Regions from separate parts of the Homo sapiens genome. Here region 2 is linked to region 1. Evidence: fine-mapped expression QTL. Tissue or cell type: whole blood. Region 1 holds a variant in brackets; the other region holds the start of a gene. All regions are shown on one strand. Distances are between the middles of the regions.

Region 1 (5,656 bases):
AAGGCAGCGAAAGCATTTGTTCTCCAAAATGCTGATGGGAGATGGCTTGCCCCAGCCACCTTGGTTGTGAAAGAGGAATTTCAAAAGCAGTTGCCGAGGATCCCACTAGGCTTCAAGAACACGTGGCCTCTCTCAAATTCAAGGCGCCAAAGTGGGGGCAGACTGAAGGGACGTGAGGGAGCCCCACAGGACAGACGGGGGCAAGCGGCCCGGCCACTGGGGCTGCCTCTGCCCAGTCACCTCCCTCCTCCGGCCTTCGTTCTGCTCCTTTCTACCCAAGGTCGGCCACTCCCCTGCCCTATAAAAACCCACCCATGTCCCCGTCAAGGGCAGCAGGCACCCCAGGCTGCTAAGACGTGCACTCTGAGCGCCTTCCCAGCCCAGGGACTGTCCCCAAGGTCCAGCTGCCCAGGGGCCCTGAGCAGCCACTCCCACTTCTTGTCATCACAACCGCTTAAGGACCTGCAGATGAGGGCATCCTATCCCACCCCAGCCCTGGGGGCCATGTTCAGGCCAGGAGAAGCCACCAAACACTGCCACCATCTTCCTGGCTCCAGAGGCTCTGTGCCAACACCAGGCCCCCTTGGGCCCACCTAGCCCACAGACCTTGGAGGCAGGTGCACGAGCAGGTGCATCCATCCCATGGACTCTGATGGGCTGTCAGGAAGGACGCAGGTAGAGCCCAGGTCCTGCCCAGCAGGTGCAGTTCCAAGGCTGCCTCTGGGTGGCGTGCTTGGACCAGTCAGGTGCCCTGTGTTCACCTAACACCGCAGAACCGGCTTCCAGCTGCCAGGGCGATGCAAGCCTGTAGAAGCACAGATGCGGTCATTCCTCAGCCCTACCCAGGCCTTGAGAGTGGAGGGTCAGGGGCCTCTGCACAAAGGCTTTGATCCCCCAAATACACACAGACCCCCACTTTCCTTGTTAGTTTTCTAACACTTCCATAGCAAGCTACCACAGACTAGGTAGCTTCAGCAGCAGAAATGTGTCCTCTGACCATTCTGAAGGCTGAGAGTCTGGGATGAAGACGTTGACGGGTGTGGTCTCCGCAGAAGTCTCTCTCCTTGGTCTGCAGACAGCTGCTCTCTTGCTGCCTCTTCACATGGTCTTCCCTCCACGCGGGCTCACCCAGGGGACTCTGTGTGACCTGGTCTCCTCGTCTTATAGGAATGCCAGCCATGTTGAATTAGAGCCCCACATTCATGCCTCATTTCTACTTAATCACCTCTTTATTTTTAAAATTTATTTATTTATTTATTTTATTTTTTTTGAGACTGAGTCTCATTCTGTTGCCCAGGCTGCAGTGCAGTGGCATGATCTCAGCTCACTGCAACCTCCACCTTCCGGGTTCAAGCGATTCTTCTGCCTCAGCCTCCCGAGTAGCTGGGATTACAGGTGCACGCTATCACGCCCAACTGATTTTTTGTATTTTAGTAGAGACAGGGTTTCACCATGTTGGCTGGTCTTGAACTCCTGAGCTCAGGCAATCCGCCTGCCTCGGCCTCCCAAAGTGCTGGGATTACAGGCGCGAGCCACCGTACCCGGCCTCCCAAAGTGCTGCGATTACAGGTGCGGGCCACCGTACCCGGCCTAAATTACCTCTTTAAAGGTCTTACCTTCAAATAACGATCACGTCATGAGGTACTGGGGGCTGGGATTTCAACATATGAATTTTGTGGGACACAATTTCAATCCATAACACTGACGTAAGGTTCTTGCACTGTATGTGAAGTGGTATAATATGTAAATGTGACAATTCGTAGAGAAAGAAATGTCTTTTCAACCAGTGATGCTGGAACTATTGAATATGCATGTGCAAAAAGAAAAAGAGAGCCTCGATCTATACCCGGACCACATATAAAAATAACTCAAAATGTACTGCAGACGTAAATGTCACACCTAAGACTACACAGTTGCTAGAAGTAAACCTAAGCGAACATTTCTGTGATCTTGAGTGGACAAAGATTTTTTAGCTGTGATTTCAAAAGCATCATCTATAAAAACAATAAACCAGCCTTCATCAGCATTAAAAGCATCTGCTCTTGGGAAGACACTGTTAACAGAATAAAAAGGCAATTCATAGACTGGAAGAAAGTATTTTAAAATCACATATCTGATAAAGGATTTATGTCTGGAATATATAAAGAACAAAATGCATTACAGCACCCCCCACCACACGCTTGTCTGTGGTTCCACTTTGTGTGGTTTCAGTTACCAGCAGTAAACTGTGGTCGGAAAATATTACATGCAACAAGATATTTTGAGAGAGAGAGACAGAGCCCACATTCACGTAACTTTTATTACAGTTTACTGTTATAATTGTTCTATTTTATTATTATTTTTAGTCTCTTATTTTGCCTAGTTTGTACATTAAACTTTATCATAGGTATATATTTATAGGAAAAAATGTAGTATGTATAAAGTTCAGAGTTCAGTACTATCCATGGTTTCAAGCATTCATTGGGGGGTCTTGGAATGTATACCCAGCAGATAAGGAGAAACTGCTGTCATAAGTAAACAAACAATCCAATTTGTTTTGAGGTTTGGGTTTTTTTGTTTAGAGACAGGGTATCATTCTCTTGCCAAGGCTGGAGTGCAGTGACACCACCATAGCCCAGTGAAGCCGTAACATTCCAGGCTCAAGCAATTCACCCACTTCTGCTTCCCAAGTAGCTGGAACTACAGGTGTACACCATCGCACCCAGCTA[A/AT]TTTTTTTTTTTTTTTGCAGAGATGGGGTCTCACTATGTTGCCCAAGCTGGTCTCAAACTCCTGGGTTCAAATGATCCACCCTCCTTGGCCTCCCAAAGTGCTGGGATTACAGGCATGAACCACCATGTGCAGCCACAACCCAATTTTAAATAAGGACATAGATTTTAAAGGATGTGGGCCACTTTGTTTTATTGTGTTCACCTTTTTTTTTTTTTTTTTTTTTTTTTGAGACGGAGTCTCGCTCTGTCGCCCAGGCTGGAGTGCAGTGGCGCTATCTCAGCTCACTGCAAGCTCCGCCTCCCGGGTTCACGCCATTCTTCTGCCTCAGCCTCCCGAGTAGCTGGGACTACAGGCACCCGCCACCACGCCCGCCTAATTTTTTGTACTTTTAGTAGAGACGGGGTTTCACCGTGTTAGCCAGGGTGGTCTCAATCTCCTGACCTCGTGAGCTGCCCGTCTCGGCCTCCCAAAGTGCTGGGATTACAGGTGTGAGCCACCGCACCCGGCCTATTGTGTTCACTTTCCTGCACTTTGCAGATACCGCATGTTTGACTGTTGAAGGTCTGTGGCCGCCCCGCGTTGAGCAAGCCCACCTGTGCCGTGTTTCCAACGGCGTGTGCTCGCTCACATCTCTCAGTCACACGTTAGTAATTTTGCAATGTGTTGAACTTTATTATGATTGTATCTTTTGTGGTGGTCTGTGGTTGGTGATCTTTGGAGTTACTTGGTCATCGTTTTAGGGCTCCATGAACCACGCATATAAGAAAGTGAACTTAATTGATAAGTGCTGTGTGTGTTCTGACTGCTCCATGGACCAGCCATTCCTCCCTCTCTCCCTTTCCTTGGGCCTCGCTATTCCCTGAGAAACAGCAATTTGAAATTAGGCCAACCAATAACCCTACAGTGACCTCTAAGTCCTCAAGTGAATGGTCAATCACAAGCTAGACATGATTAGACTCAGTGAGAAAGGCATGTTGAAAGCCGAGACAGGTGGAAATCTAGGCTCGTGCACCAAGCACTGAGTCAACCTGTGAATGCAAAAAAGAAGTTCTTGAAGGAGATTAAAAGTGCTACCCCGTGGAACACGTGAATAAGGAAGCGAAACAGCCAAATCACTGAGAGGGAGAAAGTTTTAATGGCCTAGATGGAATGATCAAACCACCCACAACATTCCCTTAAGCCAGGGGTCCCCAACCCCCAGGCCACACAGCAGGAGGTGAGTGGCAGGAGAGTCAGATCAGCAGCAGCATTAGATTCTCAGAACCGTGCAAACCCTACTGTGAACTGCGCGTGCGAGGGATCGAGGTTGCGCACTCCTTGTGAGGATCTAACTATCGCCTGATGATCTGAGGTGGAACAGCTTCATCCCAAACCTTCCCCCCGACGCCTAGTCTGTGGAAAAATTGTCTTCCACAAAACCGGCCCTTGGTGCCAAGAAGGCTGGAGCCAAAGCCTTAAGCCAAAGCCTAATCCAGAGCAAGGCCCCGACTCTTAAATCCTGTGGAGGCTGAGAGAGGTGAGGAAGCTGCAGAAGAAAAAGTCTGAAGCAAACAGAGATGGGTTTGTGAGGTTTAAGGAAAGAAATCATCTCCATAACGTGAAAGTTCAAGGGAGGCAGCAGGTACTGATGGAGAAGCTGCAGTAAGTTACCCGGAACATCCAGCTGAGATCATGGATGAAGGTGGCCACGCTACACAGACCTTTTATGTAGACAACATAGTTTTCTGTTGGAAGAAGATGCCATCTGAGACTTTTATAGCTGGAGAGAAGCCAGTGCCTGGCGTCGAAGCTTCATAGGACAGGCTGAGCCTCTTGTGAGGGGCTAATGCAGCTGGTGGCCTCAGATTGAAGCCAGTGTTCATTCACCATTCAGAAAATCCTAGAGCCCTTAAGAATTATACCACATGCACTCTGCCTGCTCTAGAAATGGAGCAACAAGGCCTGGATGGCAGCACATGTGCTCCCGATGGTTTACGGAATCCATTAAGCCCACTATTGAGAGCTACTGCTCGGGAAAAACAAGATTCTTTTCATAATATTACTATGAGTCTGGGCATGATGGTTCACGCTTGTAATCCCAGAACTTTGGGAAACTGAGGCAGGAGGATCACTTGAGCCTAGGAATTTGAGACCAGCCTGAGCAACATAAGGAGACCCTATCTTTATAAAAAATTTTAAAATTAGCCAGGTATGGTAGCTTATGCCTGTGGGCTCAGCTACTCAGGAGGCTGAGGTGGGAGGATCACTTGAGCCAGGGAGGTCAAAGCTGCAGTCAGCCAGGATCACACCACTGCACTCCAGCCTTGGTGACAGTGACACCCTGTCTGAAAATACATACGTATATTCGTTGACAATGCACCTAGTTCCCAGAGCTCTAACAGAGACATACACAGAGTCATGCTGCTTTCGTGGCTGCTAAAACAACATCCATTCTGCAGCCCTTGGATCAAGGAGTTGTGTCGACTTCCAAGTCTTACTATTTAAGAAACACATTTCTGGCCGGGCATGATGGCTTACGCCTGTAATCCTAGCACTTTGGAAGTCCAAGGCGGGTGGATCACCTGAGGTCAGGAGTTCAAGACCAGCCTGACCAACATGGTGTGAAACCCTGTCTCTACTAAAAATACAAAAATTAGCCAAGCATGGTGGCAGGTGCCTGTGATCCCAGCTACTCAAGAGGCTGAGGCAGGAGAATCACTTGAACCCGGAAGGCAGAGGTTTCAGTGAGCACCACTGCACTCCAACCTGGGCGACAGAGCAAGACTTTGTCAAAAAAAAAAAAAAACATTTCTAAGGCTATAGCAACCATAGACAGTGATTCCTATGATGGATCTGGCTAAAGTTCACTGAAAACCTTCTGGAAAGGATTCACCATTCTAGATGACATTAAGAACACTGACAATTCATGGGAGGACATAAAAATATCAACGTGAACAGGATTTGGGAG
Region 2 (5,656 bases), 110 kb before region 1:
GACCTAGCTTTTCAGGGCTGTTACCCCCCGAACTGGTTGGGTTCACCCGTGTGGTGGCCACCTGGCACAGTGTCAGAGGCTCAAGGTGCGGGAGGGGTCACCTCCTTATATGCACCTGCCAGCTGAGATTAGACTCTAAGTATGTTCTTCTGGGGGGGAAACCTATTTAGACCCACTGCATGTCTTAGGCAGCATTCCTCCCAGACACCCTCACGTGATTCTCAGTTGTCTGAGAATGCCCCGAAAAGCTGAGGGGAGGCAGGTGCTCTTATTTCTTCAGAGGGGAAGATTCTACACTCATGAGCTAGAGGGTTTGGAGTTGGTCAAATCCGATAAGGGAAAGGACCAAAACACACAAAAAAAACCCCAACAAGACAGAAACAAACAACAGAACAGGTAAGCAAAACTAACAATGATCACACAAAATACATGACTTCTTTTTTTTTTTTTTTTTTTTTTTTTGAGACGGAGTCTCGCTGTCGCCCAGGTTGGAGTGCAGTGGCGCGATCTCGGCTCACTGCAGGCTCCGCCTCCCGGGTTCACGCCATTCTCCTGCCTCAGCCTTTTGAGTAGCTGGGACTACAGGTGCCCGCCACCGCGCCCGGCTAATTTTTTGTATTTTTAGTAGAGATGGGGTTTCACCGTGTTAGCCAGGATGGTCTCGATCTCCTGACCTCGTGATCCGCCCACCTCGGCCTCCCAAAGTGCTGGGATTACAGGCGTGAGCCACCGCGCCCAGCCTATGACTTCTGAACGCTCTAAGTGTAAGCAGAAATAAACACCAGCTGGTTGTTAATGTTATCTTTAGTCATTTAAAAAGAATTTGCAAGACAAAATTCCAAATCAATTTTCTTACCTAGTGATGGGGCTCAAGCTGAAGACGGCTATCTGTCGATGCAGAAGCAGGCAGGCTTGCCTTCCTTGATGAAGCGAGTGGGAACTCCCAAAAAAGGAGTTTTTTAACAGCAAATAAACCTCAGACCCCCCACCGAAAAACGTTGGAAGATCAGGGATCCCTGGAGGAACAAGGTCCCAGATTTCAGCAATCATCCTACCAGTTTGGGCAATAAGGTGCCAAGCCAATACCGAGGATCAATAGGCGAACTGCTGCAGGCCGGGTTACCTTCACTGAGGATCTCTCAGTGCTTATCAATGTCAATCGAGAAAAATGACAAGTCTTAATCATTTCAGGAGGCTTATTTCCCAAAGTTAAGGACGCCCATGACACAGCCTCCGGAGATCCTGACGACGTGGGTCCAAGGTGGTCGGGGCACAGCTTGGTTGTATTCATTTTAGGGAGTCACGAGATATCAATCATATGTATAATAACAGGCCGGACAGGGCGCGGTGTCTCACGCCTGTAATCCCAGCTCTTTGGGAGACAGAGGCGGGCGGATCACGAGGTCAGGAGATTGAGACCATCCTGGCTAACATGGTGAAACCCGTCACTACTAAAAAATACAAAAAAAAAAAAAAAATTTGACGGGCGTGGCGGCGGGCGCCTGTAGTCCCAGCTACACGGGAGGCTGCGGTAGGAAAATGGCGTGAACCCGGGAGGCGGAGCTTGCAGTGAGCGGAGATGGTGCCACTGCACTCCAGGCTGGGCGACAGAGCGAGACTCCGTCTCAAAAACAAACCAACAAAAAAAAAACAGGCCGGGCGCGGTGGCTCATGCCTGTAAATCCCAGCACTCTGGGAGGCCGAGGCGGGCGGATCACGAGGTCAGGAGTTCAAGAACAGCCTGACCAACATGGTGAAACCCCGTCTCAACTAAAAATACAAAAATTAGCCGTGCGTGGTGGCACGCACCTGTAATCCCAGCTACTCAGGAGGCTGAGGCAGGAGAATTGCTTGAACCCGGGAGGCAGAGGTTGCAGTGATCTGAGATCACGCCACTGCATTCCAGCCTGGGCGACAGAGTGAGATTTCATCTGAAAAGAAAAAGAAAAAAAAAAAAAAAAAAAAAAAAAGAAGGACATTGGTTCTGTCCAGAAAGGCGGGGGCAACTTGGAACAGGGAGGGGGCTTCCAGGTCACAGGTAGGTGACAGACAAATGGTTGCAGTTTCTGGGTTTCTGATAAGCCTCTCCAAAGGAGGCTATCAATATGCATTTATCTCAGTGAGCAGAGGAATGACTTTGAATAGAATGGGAGGCAGGTTTGTCCTGAGCAGTTCCGAGCTTGTCTTTTCCCTTAGTTTAGTAATTTTGGGGCCCCAAGATTTTCCTTTCAGAAAAAAGAAAATGTGGTATATATACACAATGGAGTACTATTCAGCTCTAATAAAAGAATGAAACCCTATCATTTGCCACAACACGGATAAACCTGAGGATATCATGTAAGCAAAATAAGACACAGAAAGACAAATACCTCATGATCTCACTCATGTGGCATCTTTAAAACGAAGTTAATCATTAAGATATTTACCAGTTGTCTGAGGTATTGGGTTGAATTTTCTTTTTTTTTTTTTTTTTGAGACGCAGTCTCGCTCTGTTGCCAGGCAGAAGTGCAGTGGCGCGATCTCGGCTCACTGCAACCTCCGCCTCCCAGGTTCAAGCGATTCTCCTGCCTCGGCCTCCCGAGTAGCTGGGACGACAGGCACCCGCCATCACGCCCCGCTAATTTTTTGTATTTTTAGTTGAGACGGGGTTTCACCATGTTGGCCAGGATAGTCTCGATCTCCTGACCTCGTGATCCGCCCGCCTCGGCCTCCCAAAGTACTGGGATTAAAGGCGTGAGCCACTGCACCCTGCCTTCCAAATTAAAAACTTTTTAAAACCTCGTACCTCGCCGTGGGCGGCGACCGTCGCGGACTCGCCGGGAAGACGGCCCCACGGAGCCGGGAACACCGCCCGCTGTTCGTATGTCCGAGGTGACGCCCCGCTGTGGCGGGCTGGCGGAAGTGACGCGCTGCTGTGGCGCGCCGGCGGACGTGACGCCACTGTCGCTGCGACGATAAGGCCTGGCGTTATTGCTTAGAGGCGGCTACCTGGAGCCGGAAGCGCGGCTGCAGCAGGGCGAGGCTCCAGGTGGGGTCGGTTCCGCATCCAGCCTAGCGTGTCCACGATGCGGCTGGGCTCCGGGACTTTCGCTACCTGTTGCGTAGCGATCGAGGTGCTAGGGATCGCGGTCTTCCTTCGGGGATTCTTCCCGGCTCCCGTTCGTTCCTCTGCCAGAGCGGAACACGGAGCGGAGCCCCCAGCGCCCGAACCCTCGGCTGGTACGGACCCCTCCCCGGCGTCTCCGCTCCCCTGACCCCACATCCCCTAGAAGACCTTTTTTCTGAGCCTCGCTGCTCGGATTTCTTCTCGGCGCTCCCCGGTGGTCTCTTCCATTATGGTCCCCACCTCAGAAATTTTTTTTAACCGCTCCAGCGTCTCTTTTCTGTATTCTTACAACTTTGTGGCAACCACCTCTACTGGCCCCACTTCGACCTTCCTTCCTGATCACCACAAAGTAAGCTGTGTCCATACCTGGGATCCAGCCTCTCCACTTCTACTCGTCCAGAGCTCCCGCCCCTTTCCTGAGCAGCCTTTGGGTCACTCCCCGTTATAGGCGCCCTTTTTGCCCCCTAGCACACAACAGATAAGACCCCTGCCGATCCCCTCGCGTTTTGGTCTCTTATATTCCTCCAAGATGTTTTCCCTGCCTAGGGGCTAAGGCCTCTCTGCGTTAGGCCTCTTCCTAGGCTTCACCTACCCAGCCATATACAGCAAGTAAAGGCGCCCTGGTTCTGGACCACTTGCACACATCGCCAGCCGCTGACCATGTAAACGCAGTATGTAAACGCCCAGCCATCCCGTAGCTGCAGCTCTGCGTTTTAGGTCAAGCTCCCTAAATGTCCCATTCCAGGACCCTTACGTAGGGATTCTCCTACCCCAGTACTCTTCACCATACTGAGGATAATTCACTGCTTGCTACTGTGGGTCCCTAAGATTACTCCTGTTAACCCCCGTCCTTTCCCCCCAGCACTACCTACCAAGTACAAGTCGCCTCCTTTTGGGTTGGGTTATGTAGATATCGCAGGGTATGTGCTGGAGAAGTAGGTAGAAGCTAGATTGTGAAGGTGCTTGATGCTAAGGAAAGTTTAGAGTTCAATTTCCTTTTTTTTCTTTCAAACACTTAGGAGCCAGTTCTAACTGGACCACGCTGCCACCACCTCTCTTCAGTAAAGTTGTTATTGTTCTGATAGATGCCTTGAGAGATGATTTTGTGTTTGGGTCAAAGGGTGTGAAATTTATGCCCTACACAACTTACCTTGTGGAAAAAGGAGCATCTCACAGTTTTGTGGCTGAAGCAAAGCCACCTACAGTTACTATGCCTCGAATCAAGGTAAGTTTGCCTTAATGTTTTATGAATCATGGTTTGGCTGTTTTGAAGATTTAGAGGGGGTCTCTGTAGTCTTTCGCTTGGAGTTGCAATTTTAAGAAAGTGGAAATTTTGTGCTGTCAGTTGGCTGGGGCAATAGAATGTTGAAGGAGCCTCACACGGGATGGAACTGAGACCCATCATTTGTGCCCCATGTCAAGTAGCCAAAGCTCATGCTTCATGGCAAATATAAAAGATTTAGAGCAAGATCATCCAGGCTAACCTACCCCAAGATATGCCATTCTTGGTGACCTGCTTTCTTCTTTAATCGTCACTGGGTCATTTACAATCTTAGAAGGAGCCTTTAGAGTTAATCTAGTTCAGTCTCTAGACTTTATAGATAGGAAAGCAAACTCAGATAAGTTAAATGTGACTTCTCCAAAATTATCCACCAGTATACATAATGATCAAATCAGTATGTTCCGGCCTCAACAATTACCACTGTTTCCACCATATCCTTCAGGTGTCCAGCCTACTGACAGCAGCTTTGAAGTACATAGTGCATTTCCCAAGAACCGTGGGTAAAGAAAAAAGTAAGCCTTTATTGATTGGCTCAAAACTTTTGAGCAACGACTATGTGGTGATACTTCAATGGGTATGCAATTGGGGAAAAAATAGTATCTCTGCCTTCATGTAGCTTTTAGTCTTTAGATATACAGCCACTCAACAAAGGAGCATATGAAAACATGCAGTTGTAAAGTGTGGTTAATGCATGATGAGAAAGAACAGGATGTGATGATTAGTGGGTGAGAAAGCCTGGCTGAGGAAATTGCATTTAAACTGAGACTGGAAGGATGAATAAAGGTGGGGACAGAAAGGAGCAGAGGGGTTGAAGTGTGTGAGTGTATCGCATGTGAGCGTGGCATAAAGTCTCTGACGGAGCCTTAGCTGTGTTGTTGATCATGTGAAACATTATTTGGTGAGAAGGAGCTACTTATTGATTTAAGGCTTGGGGGCAGCCCCATTTGCAGATGCTTGGCAGATGTTCACTGGATGAAAGCAGTCTGAGACTGAAGGAAGCACAGTGCCATATCACTCACTGACTTTTTCCTTGAATTTCTTACTCTCTCTGCCGCATTTCAATGTGATGTGACTTCCTTCAGCAATATTTATTGAGCATCTACTGTGTGCCACACTGTTCCAGACAGGAGGGAGGCAGTGAAGAACAAGACAGCATTGTCCTCATGGAGCTTACTTTCTAATTGGAGGGATAGAAAATCGGTAAAATATGAATCAATGAAGATGGTTTCAGACAGTGACAACTGCTCTGGAAGGAATGGAGAGGGAGG

Evidence for each region. PIP is the estimated chance that this variant, and not a neighbour inherited with it, causes the effect.
Region 2: it holds the start of PIGG, and the variant in region 1 is fine-mapped to the expression of PIGG in whole blood (INTERVAL, PIP above 0.99).

Annotation. Positions count from the first base shown.
Region 1 is chr4:602,113-607,768 of GRCh38, forward strand. The region is part of intron 1 of LOC124900162 (a long non-coding RNA gene); the gene reads left to right. Among named protein-coding and RNA genes, the nearest start is that of PDE6B, 21 kb to the right of the region's middle. The variant A/AT (reference allele first, on the strand shown) is at 2,709.
Region 2 is chr4:496,271-501,926 of GRCh38, forward strand. It overlaps PIGG (phosphatidylinositol glycan anchor biosynthesis class G (EMM blood group)), which reads left to right and starts at 2,940. Exons shown (of 13, transcript NM_001127178.3): 1 at 2,940-3,219; 2 at 4,126-4,331. The coding sequence starts at 3,066. It overlaps ZNF721 (zinc finger protein 721), which reads right to left and starts at 2,886. Exons shown (of 3, transcript NM_133474.4): 1 at 2,786-2,886. RefSeq lists enhancers at 2,172-3,037, 2,601-3,080, 3,038-3,901.